3 linked regions of the Homo sapiens genome follow. The protein of the gene in region 2 interacts with the protein of the main gene of each other region in a biochemical or structural test. Each region holds a gene or a part of one and is shown on either strand. Other genes may lie near its edges.

What was found.
Region 1: of the proteins of PEF1 (region 2) and USP9X, one has a biochemical effect on the other in vitro, tested with the Homo sapiens proteins (one study listed by BioGRID).
Region 3: the proteins of PEF1 (region 2) and CUL3 form a complex in vitro, tested with the Homo sapiens proteins (2 studies listed by BioGRID).

What each region holds. Positions count from the first base shown.
Region 1 is NC_000023.11:41,080,514-41,088,457, forward strand, and holds the start of USP9X (ubiquitin carboxyl-terminal hydrolase 9X), read left to right. Parts: upstream 1-4,931; 5' UTR 4,932-5,596; intron 5,597-7,103; exon of another isoform or gene 7,104-7,152; intron 7,153-7,944.
Region 2 is NC_000001.11:31,629,363-31,634,985, forward strand, and holds the end of PEF1 (peflin), read right to left. Parts: intron 5,582-5,623; coding exon of another isoform or gene 5,484-5,581; exon of another isoform or gene 5,304-5,483; intron 5,131-5,303; exon of another isoform or gene 3,953-5,130; coding exon 3,797-3,952; exon of another isoform or gene 3,277-3,796; coding exon 3,133-3,276; coding exon of another isoform or gene 3,074-3,132; intron 1,481-3,073; coding exon 1,251-1,480; 3' UTR 504-1,250; downstream 1-503. UniProt on the Homo sapiens protein: Calcium-binding protein that acts as an adapter that bridges unrelated proteins or stabilizes weak protein-protein complexes in response to calcium.
Region 3 is NC_000002.12:224,505,287-224,512,398, reverse strand, and holds part of CUL3 (cullin-3), read left to right. Parts: intron 1-816; coding exon 817-1,045; intron 1,046-5,395; coding exon 5,396-5,541; intron 5,542-6,266; coding exon 6,267-6,443; intron 6,444-7,112. UniProt on the Homo sapiens protein: Core component of multiple cullin-RING-based BCR (BTB-CUL3-RBX1) E3 ubiquitin-protein ligase complexes which mediate the ubiquitination and subsequent proteasomal degradation of target proteins.

The sequences.
Region 1 (7,944 bases), on a different chromosome or scaffold from region 2:
CCAGAACTCAGGGATGATCCAAGGCTGGGGCTACTCTTGCTGTCCTTACATCCAAGTCTTTGGCTGGGAATAGGTCAGTTTCAGAGACATTCCCACAGAGCAGGAGGGACAGACTACTTCTAAGCAGGTTGTTAGGCACTGGTGTCTAAAATTTGGTCAAATTTTAGACACCATGAGCAATAGCACATTATCAACTGTGATCATTTAATTATCTCTTGTTCTCCCTAGCTACATTTTCTGCCTGTTGTCATAAAGATTAAGTGGGACCACCTACTTAGATTTTTAGTTATCGTATTTTTATATTAAAAATAGTAACTCATTGTGGACTTTGCTCATTCCATTCAATCACAAAGCCTTCTCTAGGGAACATATTATCAAAGGTCCCTCCTCTTCTATTTTAGTTTGGCCATTAGCCCAGAAAGTATTTCCACAGAACTTTAAAATTTGTACCCCTGAAAATATTAAATAACATCAATTTATCCAGGAAAATTTGTCTATGGTTTAAGATAAGTGTCCTAGTAAACAATGAGTATACTTATCAGATATTTCTGGGGCAGGGGGAGTGGGGAGAGAGAGCAATGAGAAATTTCATGAGGAAATGTAATATAATAAGGTTTTGCCCTAATAAAGCAGAACCAGGAAGTTAAAAAAAATTACAGTTTGAAAACTAAAGGACAGGTGTTAGAAAAGAGAAACCCAAACAAAGGAAGAAGAAAGACCTGGACTATATGGATTTTAATTTAAGGAGTTGCACTGTGATAATAAACCTATTCTTTTAACTCAAAACTGTTTATTTCCTATCCCATTAACTAAGTGGAAGATCTCAAAAGGGGACAGTCCTGTAGGCCAAATCTACCCTGGGAGCCAAGGTGCACCCTCTGGGTAGCTCGAGAGAGCACAAGGCATCAGTTGGTGGTGAGCTTGACTTGAGAGTTGAGACTAAAACAGCTGGTGGGAGAGTAATGTATAGCCTAAACCATATGAAATTGTATGTGGCTGGATTTTCTTTTCTTCATTTTTTTTATTGTAAAATACAGATAACTTAGAATTTACCATTTTAAGAGTACTATTCAGTGGTATTAAGTACATTTGCAATGTTGTGCAACCATCACCACTTTGCATTTCCAGAACGTTTTTCATCATCTCAAACAGAAATTCTGAACCCATAAAACAACTCCCTATTACCCTCCCCCTAGCCCCTGGTAGCCTCTATTCTACTTTCTGTCTCTATGAGTTTGACTACTTTAGGTACCTCATATAAGTGGAACCATACCATATGTGGCCTTTGTGTCTGGCTTCTTTCACTTAGCATAATGTTTTCAAGGTTCATCCATGTTGTAGCATGTATCAGAGTTTCATTCCTTTCTAAGGCTGAATAATATTTCATTGTGTGTATACACCAAATTTTGTTTATCCATTCATTTGTTGATGGACATTTGGGTTGTTTCCACATTTTGGCTATTGTGAATAATGCTGCTATGAACGGTGGTGTTCAAGTGTCTGTTACAGTCCCTGTTTTCCCTTCTTTGGGGTATATACCTAGGAGTGGAATTGCTGGGTCATATGGTAATTTTATGCTTTTTGAGAAACTGCCATGTTGTTTTCCACAGCAGCTGCACCATTTTACATTCATGCCAGCAATGTAGGAGGGTTCCAATTTCTCCACATCCTGGCCGGACACTGTATTATTATTATTTTTTTGGTTAATAGCCTTTCTAATGGGTGTGAAGTGGTATCTCATTGTGGTTTTGATTTGCATTTCTCTAATGACTATGATGTTAAGTGTCTTTTCATGTGCTTATTGGATATTTACATATATTCTTTGAAGAAATGGCTCTGCAAGTCCTTTGCCCATTTTTGACTTGGGTTTTTTGTTTTGCTGAGTTGAGTTGTAGGAGTTTTTTATATGTTCTGGATATTAATGCCATATCAAATATATTATTTGCAAATATTTTCTCCCATTCTGTAGGTTGCCTTTTCACTCTGTTGATAGTGTCTTTTGATGCACAAAAGTTTTTAATTTTGTTGAACTCCAATTTGTCTATTTTTTCCACCTGTGCTATTGTCATATCCAAGAAATTATTGCCAAATCCAATGTTGTGAAACTTCCCTGTCACGTTTTCTTCTAAGAGTTTTATAGTTTTACCTCTTATGGTTAGGTTTTTGATTCATTTTCAGTTAATTTTTGTATGTTATGTGAGGAAAAGATCCAACTCCATTTTTTTGCATATATATATATATATATATCCAGTTTTCCCAGCACCATTTATTGCAAAGACTATCCTTTCCCTCATTGAATGGTCATGGCACCCTCGTGGAAAATCAGTTGATCATATATGTTAAGGGTTATTTATGAGCTCCTTATTCTATCCCATTGGCATATATACCTGTCCTTACGCAGTACAGTTTCATAGTGAGTTTTGAAATCAGGAAGTAGGAGCCCTCCCAACATTGTTCTCCTTTTTCAAGATTGTTTTGGCTAGTGGCGAGGTGGGGGGGAAACTCCTTATCTGTATGAATTTTAGCATCATCTTGTCCATTTCTGCAAAAAAAAAAAAAGCCTGCTGGGATTTTGATAGGGATTGCATTGACTCTGTAGATCAATTTGAGGAGTATTGCTATCTTAATACTTTTATTTCAGTCTTGAATGTTTTTCAATGATGTTCTGTAGTTTTCAATGTACAAATCTTGCATTTCTTTTGTTAAATCGATTTTTAACTTTATTGATTTTGATGCTATTGTAAATGGAATTTTAACTTAATTTTCAGATTGTTTATTGCTAGTGTGTAAAACTATAACTGATGTTTAAATATTGATCTTATATCCTGCAGTTTTGCTGAACTTGCTTATTGGCTTTATTTTTTTTATAATGGATTTCCCAAGATTTTCTATATATAAAATCATGTCATGTGAAAGTAGCGATAGTTTAATTGTTCCTTTCTTATCTGGATGCCTTTCATTTCTTTTTCAGGCTAGAACTGCAAGTACAATATTGAACAGAATTGGTGAGAGGGGACATCCTTGTTAAAGGTGCACTTTTGATAGGGTTAAAAGACCAGTGTTCAACACTTTCCAATCCTGACTTCGGGCAAATCATTTACCCTTTCTGTTTCCTTATCTAAAATAGAAAATAACAGCCTATAGTGTACGCGGGTGGTCGTGTCTGCTTTTTAGAAGCCCATGAGCTAGTGGGGAAGCAAATGATTCATGGAAATAATTATAAAAACAAGGTAACATATGCTAAGAGTTATTAGGGCTATGAATGATACATCTTGGATACCCTATTAGATAATTTGTGGTGAAAAATTTGTAAACAATCTTGTGCTAAATAGAGAAATGGTTTAAAAATTTAAGATACCAATAACTTGCTTTCACTGTCACCTACATTAGTTTGGTTCCATTTTTAACAGTCTTTTATTACAAACTGATATAATCATAGCATAACTAAATTCAACCCTCTTCTCTATAAAATAGATCTCGGTTTGTAGGGTTTTACTATGATTTTGCATGCCATTTGATGTCCACAGGTATTTTTTAAGTCAAAAGGAAATCTGTAAATTAGGAACTGTTAATTTCCTCTTCATTTGGGCATCCTAGGTAGACTGTACAGATTTGTTCCAAGCACCCCATTAATTTGAGATTAGCCTAAGTTTTTCCTATGCCCGCACTTTGGAATATAAACATGTAGAAAATAGTCCATGACACAGCGGATGGGTTCATAAGTTTCTTCCGGGTCCTAACACCGAATTGTGCTGATGATCTGGCAATGGAGGCTAATCTTGCCACATCAAGTACGGCCTATTCGCTAAGCCGTCTGGGGCACTTTATAATTTTTTTCTTTGCTGGTCTGTTTGAAGGGCTCCTATGGCCAAAAAGGTGGTCAGTCCCGTCAGCTAGGCTGTGAGGACGCCTAAACGCTTTGAGGACGCCTAAACGCTTTGAGGTAGTGATGATGCATGATCGTGTGAAAGAGTTTCTCAGAGCACCTCCCTCGCGGGGTGGGGAAAAGGACCTCACTCCCCACGCCCCCTCCTTCCGCTGCGGGAGATAGCCACACCTTCCCCCTATCGGCGCCAAGCAGGTGGCCAGGCCCTCGGGACCTCGCGCCCCCGCAGCCAGTGGCCCGGCCAGCTCGTGCGTCACGTGACGCGGGTCAGCTGCACCGCCGGGACCTCCAGGCACCGCGGCGGCGACCGCCCAGCGCGTGGTCTCGAGATCTCATCTTTCCGCGCCCCTCCCCCCACGGTCCCGGAAAAGGGGGAGGCCGGTGACGTCATCATCCGGGTTCTTGTCGGCGGGGCTACGGTTCACAATGGAACAAAAACAAGCGGCCCGAGTCAAACTATGAGCGACGCGGCTGCGGCTCACGCGATTAACCCTGTCGTGGCCACACACCCCGCCAGTCCCTGCCGCCCAGCCCCTCCCGAGTGGTGTGCCAGATCTTTTCGGGCCTCCCTTCCCCAACTTCGGTCCTAGAGCCACCTCTGCCCTCGTCCCGCTCCTGAGCCGAGGGGCATGGAACAGGATTTCTGGCCGTAGCACGACCCTGAAGGGGCCAGCCGGAAGAAACAGTACTGCGCGAACAATCTTTACCGCATTGTCTTCCCCTCCCCCACCCTAGCTCTCCGGGTTCCCGGCGGCTCGCGCCGAAGCCCGGCCCCCTCAGCGGCTCGCGCTGCTCTCCCAGCCTTGACGGCCCGGGGTGGAGGGAGAGAAGAGGGGGCAGCTGAGCGGGAGGGGGCTGGGCAGGAGCAGGGGGAGGGCCGAAAGGAGGGGCCTGAAAGGGGCGGGCCCTGACGGGGGCGGAGAACTTCGGGTCTTGGGCGGCTCTGGGGCTAGTGGGAGTCTGCGCCGCCGCCGCCGCCGCCACCGCTGCTGCCGCCGTCGCCGCTACCGCCGCCGCCACTGGCCGAGCGGTTTTTTTTTTTTTGGTTTGCCGGATCCGCCATATTGACGAGGACGGGCATCCGCGGCTGCGGACGCTAGTCTCCGCCGCCGCCGGAGCCGCAACCTCTCCGCACCCGGCCCCGTCAGGGCCTCTGTCGCGCCTAGCCCCTCCCCGCCTTACACAGCTCCCGGGCCTCGCGGGAGCCCGCCGCCGCCGCCTCTCTCTCACGGGAGGCGGCCGCCTTAGCGCCCGGTGCTTGGGTCGGCGCCGGGAGCGAGGAGCGAGCTACTTCAAAGCCACCAGGCCTGGAGCGGGGACAGAGGCGGCGACTAGGGGAAGGTGAAGCCGTCGCTGCAGGAGGAGGAGCAGGAGGAGGTGACGCAGGAGAAACGCACCGCCCGGAGCCCGTCTGAGCTCAGCGAGAGCCCCAGCCTGAGGGGAGAAGGGGAAGAGGGCCGTCGCCGGCCAAGGAGGAGGAGGAGGCGGGCGCGGCGAGGAGCGAGTTCCGGCGCCGGTGTGCAGCCTTTTGGTTGAGACGCCCGCAGCCCCGAGCCCGGCCGCCGCAGCCTTTCGATACACTTTGTTGCCGGTCACCCCCGGGCCTGGGATGCACCCAGGGTAGGTCTCGTCCCGGGACCGAGCCCCACCGTCGCCTGGTGCCTCCCGCCTCCGTGTGCCCTGGTTGTGAGAAGACGTCTGTGTCGTGCGGTGAGTGGCCAGCTGCACTGGGGCGACGCTCTTTCCCGGGGCCAACAGCTGGATGTGGGTGAGGGGAGGAGGGCGAGGGGGGTGTGCGTGTGTGCGAGCCTCTTCCCTCGGCGGCTGCCGGCCAGGCTGGGGCTTCCCCGTTCCCCCTCCTCCGGCCCGGGCTGGGCGGGCGCGCGGGCCCGTGTTGTGTGTGGAGCCGGTGTCCCGAGAGCGTGTCTGTGTGTTTTGGACTGTAAGGGAAAATGGCTGACGGCTCCGTCCCTCCCCCTCCTCCCCCTTCCCGTCCTGTCTGGGGCCGAGTAGGAGGATGGAGTCTCCGGGCGTGGCGGGCAGCCCCCCCGCCGTCCGCACCCGGGGGCCGGGTCGGTTTGGGGGCTGGCCGCCCCCCGCCCGGCGGCCGCTTTCCTACCCGGTCTGGTTCCACTTGACACCAAACGCCATTACTGAGGTGGAGTGATTTGGAGCTGGGGAGCTAGGCCTCGGCTACGCCTGGCTATCAGGCCTGACGACTTGTCCGCCTCCCCCCACCCTCCCGCGATAACCCGCAGTTTCTCCCCGGCCCTGGGCTCCTGGAGTGGGAGCTGGGTTATCGGCCTCCTACACCTCCTTCGCCCCGCTTTATTTGCAGAGGGCCAAAGCCGTGAAAGGGGTTTTTGAATGCAGAAATCGCTTCCAAGCTAGCTTGGACCTATTACCTTTCTATTTTTAACTGTTTCTGCAAATATTAGCATGTGCGAGTTTGGTAGTGATCAGGTCTTCAGATTCTTGTGACGTGAGGCTTAGGGTTGGATAAATGGCTGATTTTTCATTCATTGTGAAATAAGTTAAAGAGTTATACAGCAGGTGTGTAGATGGCTTCTTAAATTATTTGTGTGGATTTCTGTAGCGACTAGAACTTACACGAGAATTTGCAAAATTTCTAGTAGAACCTGCTTAAATTAAGCATGTTATTTTTTGGAAGTTCCATAGTTACAACGTTAATTGAATTTACACGGTGCAGTTTACAGGTGTATATAATTGCTTCAGATTGTCTTTTAGTTTAAATAAGCAAGTTGTAGGTATAGATTAAATATTCATGCTTTATTTTTCGGGGAGAGAAGTATGTGTACTGTTCTTTTACCTGGAAACCCATGAGTCCCTAAATCTACTTAACGTTTGTATACTTTCACTTTTGAGGAAGAATGATTTGGGGTGCATTGATTAGGAAACTTTCCAGCAGGTACTTAACCCTCTCGGAGCTGATTACCCTTAGGTAAGGACTCCTTAACCATGACTAGCTTGGCTGGTTAGTACACTTGAACTCAAAAATAGAGACTATAAACTCTCCTTTAGATCTCGCTCGTCTTCTAATTCGCTGGGCTGCCATTTTGGTTTCAGCAAATACCTTCAAATTCTTGAAGAATTATGTATTAAATATAAAAAAGTGTCAACATTCGTTTTCTCAATTTTTAAACTCATGTGCTGTGTCATACATCTAACTTTAACCCTTTAAACTTTATCGTTCCAGCTTTTGGGTGGAGTGAAAGCTTGAAGTATTTGGAATTGGTGTTCCACAGGTGAACTCAAAATGTCTTTGGTATTTTACTGTTTTATTTTCTCTAATTTAAAAATAGGACGTTTGGACTATATGAATTCTCTCTACCCCTTTTCTTGTATTTTTTTGCATGAACATGTAACTTGTAATTCTGGTTATCAGCGTTCTCATGTTTCTTTTGTTTGCTGACCTTGGTAGTTTCTGAGAATTTCTGGAGGGAGTAATAGCACCAGCAACAGTACATGTGAGAATCTTAAGTTACTTCAGGAAGGAACATTGAAGGGCAGATTTTACCTTTCACCAGGTTATTGGGGTCTCTAGTTTGGTGTTCCATAGTCCATAGTTCTCATGGTTTTGTTTGTTTGTTTTTTTGTCTGTCGCCCAGGCTGGAGTGCAGTGGCACGATCTCGGCTCACTGCAACGTCCACCTCCCGGGTTCAAGGGATTCTCCTGCCTCAGCCTCCCTGGTAGCTGGGACTACAGGCGCGTGCCATCACGCCCGGCTAATTTTTTGTATTTTTAGTAGAGACGGGGTTTCACCGTGTTAGCCAGGATGGCCTCGATCTCCTGACCTCGTGATCCGCCCGTGTCGACCTCCCAGTTCTCATGTTTTATCTATGGAATGCTCAAGTAGGATTTACTTTAGATCTTTTTTCTTCCAGAGTCTTGTTTTTAATATCTTAAGGTATGAGATTTCTTTGCTATCTTCTCAGAGATTTTTCTTTGACATGGTGGTAATAATGCAGCTTATGGTTTTGAAATGGATGTTTGTCATGAATTTGCTAATCATCCAGTTCTTGATTAGTTGGTCACA
Region 2 (5,623 bases):
AAACTAGAATGTCTGGTGTCTTTGGCTTTTGATTGAAATGTGGTCAGCTCATTAGAGACACTCGGTGTAGACTGGGTATTATGCTGATCTAAAGATCTGACTTGCAAGTACAGATGTCTGTGCTTAATAAAAGTGGGGAGAACGTTATGACTTAATAAATGGAGTTTGTCTGGAAGATAAAACTAGGGCCTGAGAAAATAGAAAAGGCCAGGCTATGAAGTTTGAGGTAGCTGCTTTCAACCCAGAATGCCAGCCCTAAAACTGCTATGAAATAGCTTCCTAAATAGACCTTCAGGCCATACTGAACTGAACCCGGCAGGCCCCTCAGCTGGCTACCCTATACTTCAACTTCCCTCTGGCAGTGGAGAGGAGCCCCACATAGGCAATGTCCCCCCAAGCTGCTGCTTTCTGCATGGCGTGGTGTATAGGATGTACTTAAATAGTCACTGAAAGGATGAGTGGATGGACCTGTAGCTGAGAAATCATGGTGGAAAACATGGAACTCCAGAGTTTCATCCTTTTATTGAAGCTTACAATTTCACTGGACTTTTGGCCCCAAATGAAAAAAAATGCAAATTAAAAAAAGTATTGGCAGGGAGAGGTGACCACTGTCTCCTGGAGACTGAAGCCGAGCAGAGCATGGCAGGCAAGTGAGGGGTCCCAGCTGCAGAGGGCAGAAGCCTGGCCAAAGATGCCCAGGGAGCAGATTTGTCTGAGCAGGGCCAGCCCCAGGCAGCTAGAAGTTAACACACAAGGATTTATGGGTGTGGCAGAATCCAAGCCACTGGTCCCATAGACAGATCTCTCTCATGCTTGGTCAGATTCCACTTTGGAGAAAATGGGCTCGTTTGACAGGATGGCCTGGTGAGGGAACACAGGTACTAACGGTAACAGGCCGATGAACACTCACCACTGGCATCAGGGTGGAGCTCAGCTGACTGGACACTAACTCCATTACAAGGACCTGCTCCTGGTGCCAGGCTGTGCCACTCAACTGCTCATGGCCATCAGGACATTCAACTTCTATCCTCTCCTCCATCAGGCCCCTATCTGTGTGGCCTCAGCCCCGGTCCTCACTATTTGGTGGCTATGATGCAGGACTCTCCACCCTCTTTTGGAACAGTGTTGCATCAAGCAAGGGAGAATGTTCTTCTAGAGGGACAGGAAAAGAAGAGATGTCCACATACTTCTCTCACTCTAAGAAGCCAGGAAAGGTCCCTGGTGCACTCCACTCTCCACAGATGGTTGGGTCATAGCATCCGAGAAGCTGTCATGGTGACGAAGTCCTCGAAGCTGAGCCGAATGTTGCCTTGTACAGCTGTGTCCTTCTCCCGGAAGGCCTCTGTCAGCACCTGCAGCTGGGTGCACACCTGGATGAAGCGGTCAAGCTGCATGGCAGGATTGGCAGAGCGTGGGCAGTAGCGGGAGACCAGAAGCTGGGTGAACTGGGGGCTCAGGTTGTAGCCCATTTGGGACAGAGCTGGAGAAGAGGGGCACACAGACCAGACACACAAAAACCTGCCATGAGCACCTCCATCAATCAGGAATACTGGATCACAACAGTTCAAGGAACTTCGAGAGGATGGGCACAGAAGCACAAAGAGGGTAGAGAAATCCCAAGGGTCTGTCTAAGATGTCAGAAACACAACAGGGACCGTGTCTGGATGCTCCCCTTAGGTGGAAGGCCCTCATCCCTCTTTCTCCAAATCTCCATTATTGTCTCTTCAACTGAGGCTCAGGGGATTGCAGAGACGACAACGGACTATCCGCAATCATCTCTGATTCGTTTGCATTCCAAAAGGAAGCCTGAGCTCCCAGGACCACCTTGCCTGGGGCAGACATCAGAGGCAGTACAGCAGAGGTATGAGGACCTGCTCTGGAGTCAGCCACTGGGCAAGTTGCTTAGCCTCACTATCCCTATCTTATCATCTCTAAAATGGGGATAATACTTAACTTGTAGGTTCTAGTAAGGATTAAAACGGGTGATCATGTAAAGCACTTAGCACAGTGACTGGCACAGAAAAAGCACTTGGTAAATGCTATTTTAATAAAGTCACTGTCACTCCAAGGTCTCTTGGAGCATCCTGTCTCTTCACTGGGATGCTTCCTTCCTTCCTCTGTTCAGAACTTACCAGGCCAGGCTAAAACCTCAGCTCTCCATTTGTTATGCGGGCCCTTGGGCAGGTTACCTACACTAAACCTCAGTTTTCTCACCGGTAAAAGGGAGATTATAAGGGATTCTTCATTGAAGGGTGTGGAATTATAAATAGTACCTAGCACATGGGAAGAATGAATTACATAAGCCTATTAAAAATAGCAAGCATTCAGTAAATACGTTTTGTTGTGGTTAATATCACCCTTACTAATATCCACGACAAAAGCTGGCAAGAGTAGGTGATTACTATAGGTCATCTCCCCTCCCTTTTACTGGGGGCAGATGTGGTGCACTCACTCCTGCCCACAGACCTCCTTAGTCTGAATGAAATCCACAGCCTGGGCAAAGGACTAGACTCTCTGGGGAGCCCTTTCTCCCTCCTGGGTGGCAAAGCTCCCTCTTGGGTCCTCCCCCAACCTCTTACTAACCTGCCTGAGCCCAAACTGTGGCCTTCTGCCTTACACAGTCAGTTTGGAACCAGACCTGGGGCTGTGGCCTCAGGTCATCTTCCCCAACTGCAACTTTTAGAGTGCTCAGGGTCCCAAAAGTTGGGAAAGAAACTGTCCACTAGCAGAGGTGGCAACAGACCCATCTTTCTGAGCCCTGTTCAGGGCTCTTTCCATTCTACATGCTAGAAACTGGAGAGAAAGGAGTCACCCAAGCCACACACACTGGTCTCATAGTCCTTAAGGTGCCAAGTTTCCATCCTTAAGGCTCCCTGTGGCTGGGGCCGTCTCACCCAGCACTCCAGGGTCCAGCCCTGATTCTGGACCCAGGTGTTTCCTTGCCCTGGCTCTTGGCTCAGTGCCCCAGCTGGGTCAAAGAAGGGGTGAGGGATGCAGGCCTGCACTGAGAACAGCATTTTGTAGTGCAGGTGGACATTCGGTAACAAGAGGAAACCCCTTTGTTGTATCTTAGGGTGTAAAGAGAAGAGTCTAGCTCTGTCCTGCCCATCGTGCCCCGGCCATGACCCGCACCTTGCTGCAGCTCTGTGTAGCTAATGGAGCCCGAGCGGTCCCGGTCATACTGCTGGAAGAGGTTCTTCCACTGCTGGATGAATTTCCACAGGGCTGAGAAGCCGTAGACATCGATGCGGCCTGACTTGGTCTTGTCAAACATGTCTGAAGGTGAGGAGGGAAAGGAGGGGAGGAAGGCTTCAAGACTGAAGGCCAAGGGTCCCCCTCAGGACCCATTGAGGCAGCCCTTCTCTCCAGGCTGGAGTAGGCGACTTCACAGAACCAAGCCCTGAGGCCCAGATGCCTGCACCTGAGACACCCACATCAAGCGTTGCACCGTCCTCCTACTCTGGACACCTTTAGCCCCACCCCATCCAGAACTGCATTTTCTCTGCAGGCTTGGCACCTGACCCCTCCCTGCTGTTTCCTACAGGGGAGGGAGTACCATTCTACAGAAGAGGAAACTAAGTTAACCTGTAACTAGGCAGGGTCTAGAACTTAAGAAAGATCTCAGGAAAAGAGCTCTCAGTCTAGGGGATCTCACCCTGAACCTAGCTTCCTCCCCACAGTCCTCCCTGGTCAATGAATTTCTCTTCAGAATGTCCACCCACCCACCTACCCACCTACTGTCCACTATCAGGTGGCTCTGCCCCAGCTCAGGCCCAAGGGCAAGGCGGAGACTCACTTATCATCATGAGGCAGGTCTCATCATTGAATGAAGACCAATTGCAGTTGACCAGGGCCTGCTTTAGCTCCTTCATGGAGATATAGCCACTGTGATCTGAGTCCACCGACTGGAACCAGGAGTAGGCCTCAGGATCCACATTGGGAGGGGCGCCACCTGGAGGAAGGGGTGTGAAGGCCATCAACAGAAATGCCAGGAAGGGCCAGCCTCAGTAACTTCCTGGCTACAGGTTTCTCCTACACACGAAGCTTCACAAATTCACCTTCCCTGTCTTCCATCAAGCTGACATTCTTACTCTGATGGAAGAGGACCTTCAGTGAAGATTCATGAGTATTTGCAGTTGATTTCTATTCCATGAGTCCTCTGGAGTTCTCGTATAGTGTTCCAGACACTACTCTTAATTGATTTTATGTTTTTAAGGAACGGGGACCTGTACCCCTGTAGCATTTCAAGAATTCTCTGGAAAAGGTAAACTGCGAGATGGGGGAATGGGTGGTAGATAAAAGTGTAGAAGTGGCCAGGCACAGTGGCTCACGACTGTAATCCCAGCACTTTGGGAAGCCGAGGCAGGCGGATCACCTGAGGTCGGGAGTTTGAGACCAGCTTGACCAACATGGAGAAACCCCGTCTCTACTAAAAATAGAAAATTAGCCGGGCATGGTGGCACATGCCTGTAATCCCAGCTACTGGGGAGGCTGAAGCAGGAGAATCGCTTGAACCCGGGAGGTGGAGGTTGTGGTGAGCCAAGATCACGCCATTGCACTCCAGCCTGGGCAACAAAAGCGAAACTCCATCTCAAAAAAAAAAAAACAAAAAAACCCAAAAAAAACAGTGTAGAAGCTGGTAAGTCTGTCTACCTTAGGACACTGAGTTAACTGGCCACAATCGGGGTCCCTTCACACAAAGACAGCCATGGGCAGTTGTGGAGGACAGAAACCACTGCCTAGTACCAAAGCCCAGTAAGGACAGAGGGAAAAAGGTATGCCTGACTTAGGGATTAGTCTGACTTCCTTGGAAAAATCCGGGCAGGTTCTAGCCATCTTCCTAAAACATCGGTGTCATAGGGGAGCAAGGGCCACAGCCCCAGGGCAGGAGAGATTCTGTGACATGTTTGAACTGTGTAGTTTGTATAGAAGGGCTCAGGCTTTGGAATCAAAGCAGACCTGGATTCAAACCCTGGATCTGATCCTTACTAGCTTGTGTGACTTTAGGCAAAATGTACAATTTTCTGAGTAATGATTTTCACATTTCTAAAATGAACCCATTTCCCCAGAATTGTTGTGATGATTAAATGAGATAACAGCAAAATAAAATCCTCAGCAAAGAGCCTGGAATGTGTGTCTTCTGAGATATTTTCACAGAGAAACGGATATTTAAACTGAGTTTCTCCCCATGGTAGGCTACATTATCGTCTCCTGGCTAATAATCTCTAGCCAGGAGACACAGTCTGCACACCCACAGACATTGTACTAATATGGTACAATGGTTTAAAAGGCCAGTTCAATAATCTATTATTAGATTACTTGCTAATCTCCCCTTCCCTATAAGAGCATTGTACATCCTCTCCCACTGCCTGGTGGCTTGCAGAGGGGCATCCTTTCCCATCCTACTGATGTCAGTCTTGATCAGGGGGTGCTCTGGCCAAAAGAATGCAAGTGGGCAAGACATACAGTACTTCAGAGAAGCTTTAAGAGGCATTGTGCATTCTTGCTAGCTCTCCTGCTCCTTCTCTCTGCCACAAAGATAACATATCCCAAACAGGAGCTGCTCCTTCAGCATGTATCCCTGAATGAAAAAGACACAGGGAACAGAAACTCAACAGCCAGC
Region 3 (7,112 bases), on a different chromosome or scaffold from region 2:
GTTGGCCGGGCACAGTGGCTCACGCCTGTAATCCCAGCACTTTGGGAGGCTGAGACGAGTGGATCACTATATCAGGAGATTGAGACCATCCTGGCTAACACGGTGAAACCCCATTTCTACTAAAAATACAAAAAAATTAGCCGGGCGTGGTGGCGGGCGCCTGTAGTCCCAGCTACTCGGGAGGCTGAGGCAGGAGAATGGTGTGGACCCGGGAGGTGGAGCTTGCAGTGAGCTGAGATCGCGCCACTGCACTCTAGCCTGGGTGACAGAGCGAGACTCTGTCTCAAAAAAAAAAAGAAAAAAAAGATGAATAGTTATTTAAAAGCTCTTATTTTCAAACTTTAGTGTACATGTTTACTCTTTGAGACTGGGAGTGGGATGGCACTGGAAGACTTAATTAACCAGCAGTATGCCAGCAAAGCTTATGATAAACATGATGAATCTTTCTGGTTATAATTTTACATTAAAACAAATCAAAAAAGAATGTCCCACTGTATCTTGGAGTCAGATGCTTCTAAGCTTTTGACCCTCACTGGCGTGTATATACTTGTTCTGCTATTTTTTGGAGTACATTGGCACAGTTTGAAAAACATTGCTTACAGATAATGTTTTAATTTAGTATTATGTAAATACCAAAGGCTTTAAAGGATATAATTCAGACTATATCAGTCTTTCGTGTAATGAGAAATTACACAAAATGCTAATAGTACTTATTTTATTTAGGCTGATTTATTATAAACACTGTAGAAACCCAGCTAAAAGCAAAAACACTCTTTTCTTCTATGTTTAAAAAATATATATATTTTTAAATGGCAGATGGAAAGCCAGAAATTTTTAGCAGAAAATAGTGCTTCAGTATATATAAAGAAAGTAGAAGCTAGAATTAATGAAGAAATAGAACGAGTGATGCACTGCCTTGACAAATCAACGGAAGAACCAATTGTAAAGGTGGTTGAAAGGGAACTCATTTCCAAGCACATGAAGACTATAGTAGAAATGGAGAATTCTGGGCTAGTACATATGTTGAAAAATGGAAAGACAGAAGGTAAGTGTTACCGATTGAAAAATAATTAAATCCTTACTCTGCCTTATCGATATTTTTAAAATTTTCCTACAATTAAAGCAGATAATATCAGCTTTCAAGAAGTTTTGGTGTGTATTGTTAATTTGTCTCCATTGTTAACTTTAATGGGATTTCCAAGCTTGATTCTGTCTTACTAACGAAGATTTTAGATATTTCTAATGAATTGAGCATTTCCTGTCTTTAAGTCTCATTTTACATTTAATCCAGAAGATAAAAGGTGTAATAGTATTGGTGAGCCCAGTGAGCTCCTCATTCATTCCTGTACTTCCTGTATACCAAAGGGTGTGGGCTCTCTTTAGTCCTACATACTCTCTTGGGGTTTTGTGATTCTCTTAAAACCTTAAGTTTCCACCTTAAGATTTTTGTAGACTTTCCTTTGGGATTTAGTTGTGACAGGGTGCTGAAAATGCAAAAATATTTGTGTCTTCCATATTGACATACTTAGATAAATTAGATTGGTTTGGGGAACACTGAAGTTACAGAATGGAAAAGGAGGAAGGAGGAGTGCATAAAAGTAAAGAACATTTTTGAGATAACTAACATTTGTTTTTTATAGCTATTTATTTTCCTGGGGTAAAAGAAAAATTGTGACAAGTATCCTAGAAGAAATTACAAGTTAAAAGAACAATAACCATATCCTCTATTCTTAGTTTCTGATGCTTTGTTTTAAAACTTTGCCTTTACCACTTATATGGTATTAGGAAATAAAAAACATGGTACTTTGTTCTCCTGCTTCCTAGACGAAATCTAAGCAATATTTTATCCACTTCTTTTTAGTAAAAGAAATACATATTGCCTGTTGGGGTCATGAGCTATGTAGGGAATGAAAAAATTTTTTAAAGGAGAATTATAAAGAGAAGGAGGATACAAGAGAAAGGAAAACGAAAGCTGGTGGGAAGTTGAGCCATGTTTATCTCTAGTGGAATCCTTACCTTGTGTTTTAAAATTGTTAAATGTTTGTATATATGAGAAATCCCTGAAAAGTTATATGTAATTTAAAAAAACAAAAAAAAAACAAAAAAAACTAGAGAGGCTTCCTTTTTAAAAGACTCTTCAGTTAAACCTTTTTTGTAAAAGCCAAAAAAAAAAAAAAAACAGAAGTCATCTAGTATATTTGCTGTGTTTTCTAAAATTGAGGTCCAAGTCAGGGGTTGGCAAGCTTTTTTGTTGTTGAATAAAATGGCTTGTGAGCCACGCAGTCATAGTGAGAAAATAGTCCTAGACAATAACAAATGAATAATCCTGTGTTTCTATAAGACTTTATTTATGGGCCCTGAAACTTGAATTTCATATAATTTTTATGTGTCACTAAATAGCATTCTTTACAGTTTTTCCTCAGCCATTAAAAATGTGAAAACCATCCTTAGTTCATGAGCTGTACATAAATAGATGGCAGGCTGTATTTGCCCCACGGGTTCTAATTCGATGACCCTTCTCTAAGTGGTCTCTGGTAGACTGGGACTTTATGCAAAGCATTTGCCCTGCTTAAACAAAATGAGTATTGATAAATTATGTAATGTACTGTTTAGGTATTGAATGAATGCTTTCTTACCTACCTTAGGGGATAGGAAATGTTTGATGGAGAGGTTGTTGGGCATACCTGAATTACAGCATCTCTGTAACCTGTGTGGAGATGTATGTAAAAGGTGTCAGGTATGCCTATCATGGCGAGCACTTACGTGAATGAAGGAATACCATAATAGTACTCACCAGAGTTCTCCTTTATTTAGTACCTTAGGTTTCCAACAACACAGTAGCTATCTGTGATTCTAAATTAAATTTTAAAATCCTGCTTTTGTCCAGGCAGGGTGGCAAACGCCTGTAATCTCAGTATTTTTGGGAGGCTGAAGCAGGTGGATCGCTTGAGCTCAGGAGTTTAAGACCAACCTGGGCAAATTGGTGAAACCCTGTCTCTATGAAAAATACAAAAATTAGCTGGGCATGATGGCACATGCCTAGTCCCAGCCACTTGGGAGGTTGAGGTGAGAGGATCATTTGAATCTGGCTGGGGAGGTCAAGGCTGCAGTGAACCAAGATGATGCCACTGCACTCCAGCCTGGGCTACAGAGGGAGATCCTGTCTTAAGAAAAAAAAGGTGGGGGGGTTAATTTTTCTGAGCTTCCGCTAGAAACCTGGTGGCAAAATATCCTAATTGTGGTAGGCCCTGCTCTTGGAAAAAATGTTGCTCTTGTTGAGAATATAGCAGAGCCAACTTCACCATTATGAAGCCAAATTCTCATAAATCAGAAAATGAAAAACAGTTTTCTCACTGTGAATGGAGGATAAATTGGATTGATTATTAGATGCAGATAGCACTATGAAATGAAGTTCAGAGGTATCTTTTTTTTTTTTTGAGACGAAGTCTTGCTCTGTCGCCCAGGCTGGAGTGCAGTGGTGGGATCTCAGCTCACTGCAAGCTCTGCCTCCCAGGTTCATGCCATTCTCCTGCCTCAGCCTCATGAGTAGCTGGGACTGCAGGCTCCCGCCACCACGCCCGGCTAATTTTTTGTATTTTTATTAAAGACAGGGGGGTTTCACCGTGTTAGCCAGGGTGGTCTCGATATCCTGACCTTGTGATCCGCCCGTCTCAGCCTCCCAAAGTGTTGGGATTACAGGCGTGAGCCACCGTGTCTCGCCAGTATCTTATTATTTTATTAAGTGTATGTAGAAATAATGATATTTAATTTTTGCATGCCAAATTATTTTCATTTACTTTTACATTCCCTTTACCCCAACATTTAAATACAATGAAATTGTAGTAATTTATGTACAACTAAATACACAACATGTAATATCTAAGCAAAACTTACAACAACATAGGATTGAAATAGACAAGTTGTGAACCATTTTGTTAGAAGTATTTGGTGTGCCACATTTACTGTAGTATGTGTCCATAGATTGTTGCATTTGTAATACCTGTTCTAAATATGGGAAACTTGGTTGTAATTTATGCTAAGTATGTGAGAAGCTATAAAATTGCCATGTGTAGGTTACTATGGGCATATATTATTAATGGAAACTAACTAAAATTTGCTGCTGAAAGTCACTGAAATAAAGTTTAGTAAAACTTTGTAAATCTTGCTTTGAAATATTTTAAAAATGTATACAACTTTAAGCTCTAAACTACTCTTAGAACTGTAGACCAAGGTAGGCAAATTAGGGCCTGCCTGGTGCACTACCAGTTTTGTTAAAAAAAAAAAAAAAATCAAGAGTATTTACACATGAAAATTTATATAAATTTTCAGGGTCCATGAAGTTTTATTTGAAACATAGTCACACTGAATAATTTATGTATTATCTGTGGCTACTTTCTTGCTACAGCGTCAGAGTAGTTGAGTCAGAGCTCTATGGCTCACATTTTAAAATATTTATTATCTGATACTTTACAGAAAAAACATTGGTCAGCCTCTGATCTAGAAACTCTTAATGCCATTTTAAAAAGTTATTGATTGTAAAACTTTTAAAATTATCATTGTAAAGTTCTGACACTGTGTTCTCCCAGTAAGTTGTTATTGCAAAGAAACACTAGACATATGGGAAAACTGTATTTTAAAATCTGTATTTTAGTCTTGTGAAAAATGATATTAAAAAATGGATAGGATCCAGAGTTTTCATTCTAAATTTAAAAAGTATAGTGAGATAGACCAAATTTTGAAGTACAGATATTGGCTTAGGATGCTACCTGGGAAACATTAGGGATTGCTCTCAGGAAAATATTGAAGAAGTGGTATTTATATTATACATTTCATAAAAACTTTACCTGAGGTGTAATGAAGTAAATCCTAGTATAGTTCATTTGATTTGTTTTCATGATTATCAGTTAAACCTTTGGAAATACCCATAAGACTTAAACTGGCTTTAAAATTTCTTCCTCATTACAGGGACTACCAATTACCTCTTAATTAGTGACCCTTTTTGTAGACGTTTTGTAGTGTCATTAGGTCTGCATTAGAGTTATGTAGGATAAAGTATTTATGAACTCAAAACTGCAGTTGCCATGTTTTTGTGACATTACTTGTTTATTATGGTTTTTGACATCTCTTCCATGTAAATTTAAATTTGCTAGGACATTTAATTGATGGTTTCAAAGCATCTCATCTAAAAGTTGTGTTTTATAAATTACAATAATAACCATTAACTAGCCTACTTCTTCATGTTTTCATATCAATATATGTATATTTTTAATAGTCATGTGGTCAGCAAATGGGGGTAATGGAGAAATAAGCTTCTCTCAGTATTATAGCGTGAACAGAGATTCGTGTTTTTTTCTTTAATCTTTAATGTAGCCAATTTGTGTTTTCTGATTTGTAGACCTTGGTTGCATGTACAAGTTATTTAGTCGTGTGCCAAATGGTTTGAAAACAATGTGTGAGTGTATGAGTTCCTATTTGAGGGAGCAAGGTAAAGCTCTTGTTTCTGAAGAAGGAGAAGGAAAGAATCCTGTTGACTATATCCAGGTAAGTAAACCCAGAAGATTCTCTGTGTTTATGATAAAGGCATTTTGACAAGTGCTAAAAAGGCCACTTTTACCATGCTGTGTATTGTGTACTTTCAACTTAATTGTCCCAGTAGTAAATTAATATTTGTAATTATCCTACATATTTTAGGATTTTGCAAGGTGTGCGTATTTATATCAGGGAGCTAAAATTCAGCTGCTACTTTTCATTTAACTTCTTTGATGAAGACCTTGTTTAAATAGCCTCAATAGTGAATGTGAGGTTCTTTGGTATGCCTTAGTGTTTGTATACTGTAGTATATTGGAAAAAACAACTGGTTTAAGTATTTTTTGTTTGAAAATGTTTTGTTTTCAAGGAGTACTATGAATAAATTATGTGCCATGTTTTGTGTTTTAACATAATCAGCTTTTTTTGGTACATTTTTTAAGCTAATTTTTTTCACTGGCTAACCCATTCCATCAAGACAGGAGAATGAGAAACAGTGAGGAGGTTCTTTGGTTCGTTTGCATTGTATTAATACATATATGGAAGTTATAATACTTCTCTCATTGACATTTTTAATAGAGGCTTAGATATAGGCTTGAAAATAATATCAAAACTGTAAGTTTAAAAATGAATATACATGTTTATTACCAGCAAAGTTAAGATAAACATACATGGTCATAAGTGTATTATTTATGGAAAAATTATTATAATGTGTCCTAAATTTTGTTTTTATTTCTAAGGGCTTATTGGATCTGAAGAGTAGGTTCGATCGCTTCCTCCTGGAATCATTCAACAATGACCGTCTCTTTAAACAAACTATTGCGGGTGACTTTGAGTATTTTCTCAACCTCAACTCCAGGTCTCCTGAATACCTCTCATTATTTATTGATGATAAGCTGAAAAAGGGAGTCAAAGGGGTAAGTAGTAATGCATTTGAAAATAACATTTAATTTTATTTAAAGATATAAAATTATATGTAAAATTAGGACATTTCACAGATAAAAATTAAGCATGACCCATTGCTGTGCTTAAATGGGTGCCATGGTCTATTAAAAAATATTGTTTGAAATACTTGACATGCCCAAACGTAGTTAGACATTTCACTTAATGTGTAATTGGCTTCAAAAACAAGCAACTGGATGGGCTTGGTGGCTCATGCCTATAATCCCAGCATTTGGGGAGGCCAAGACAGGAGGCTCTCTTGAGGCCAGGAGTTTGAAATTAGCCTTGTTAACTTAGTGAGACTCCATCTCTACAAAAAAAAAGAAAAAAGAAAAAAATTAGTGGCACACAGTGGTATACACCTGTTGTCCCAGAAGCTGAGGCAGAGGATCACTTGAGCTCAGGAGTTCAAGGCTGCAGTGAGCTGTGATCGCGTGACTGCACTCTATGCTGGGCGACAGAGCAAGACCTTGTCTCAAAAAAACTGAACAACTGTCCAGGTATGGTGGCTCATGCCTGTAATCTCAGCACTTTGGGAGGCCGAGGTGGGCAGACCACCTGAGGTTGGGAGTTTGAGACCAGCCTGACCAACTTGGTGAAACCCCATCTCTACTAAAAATACAAAATTAGCTGGGCATGGTGGT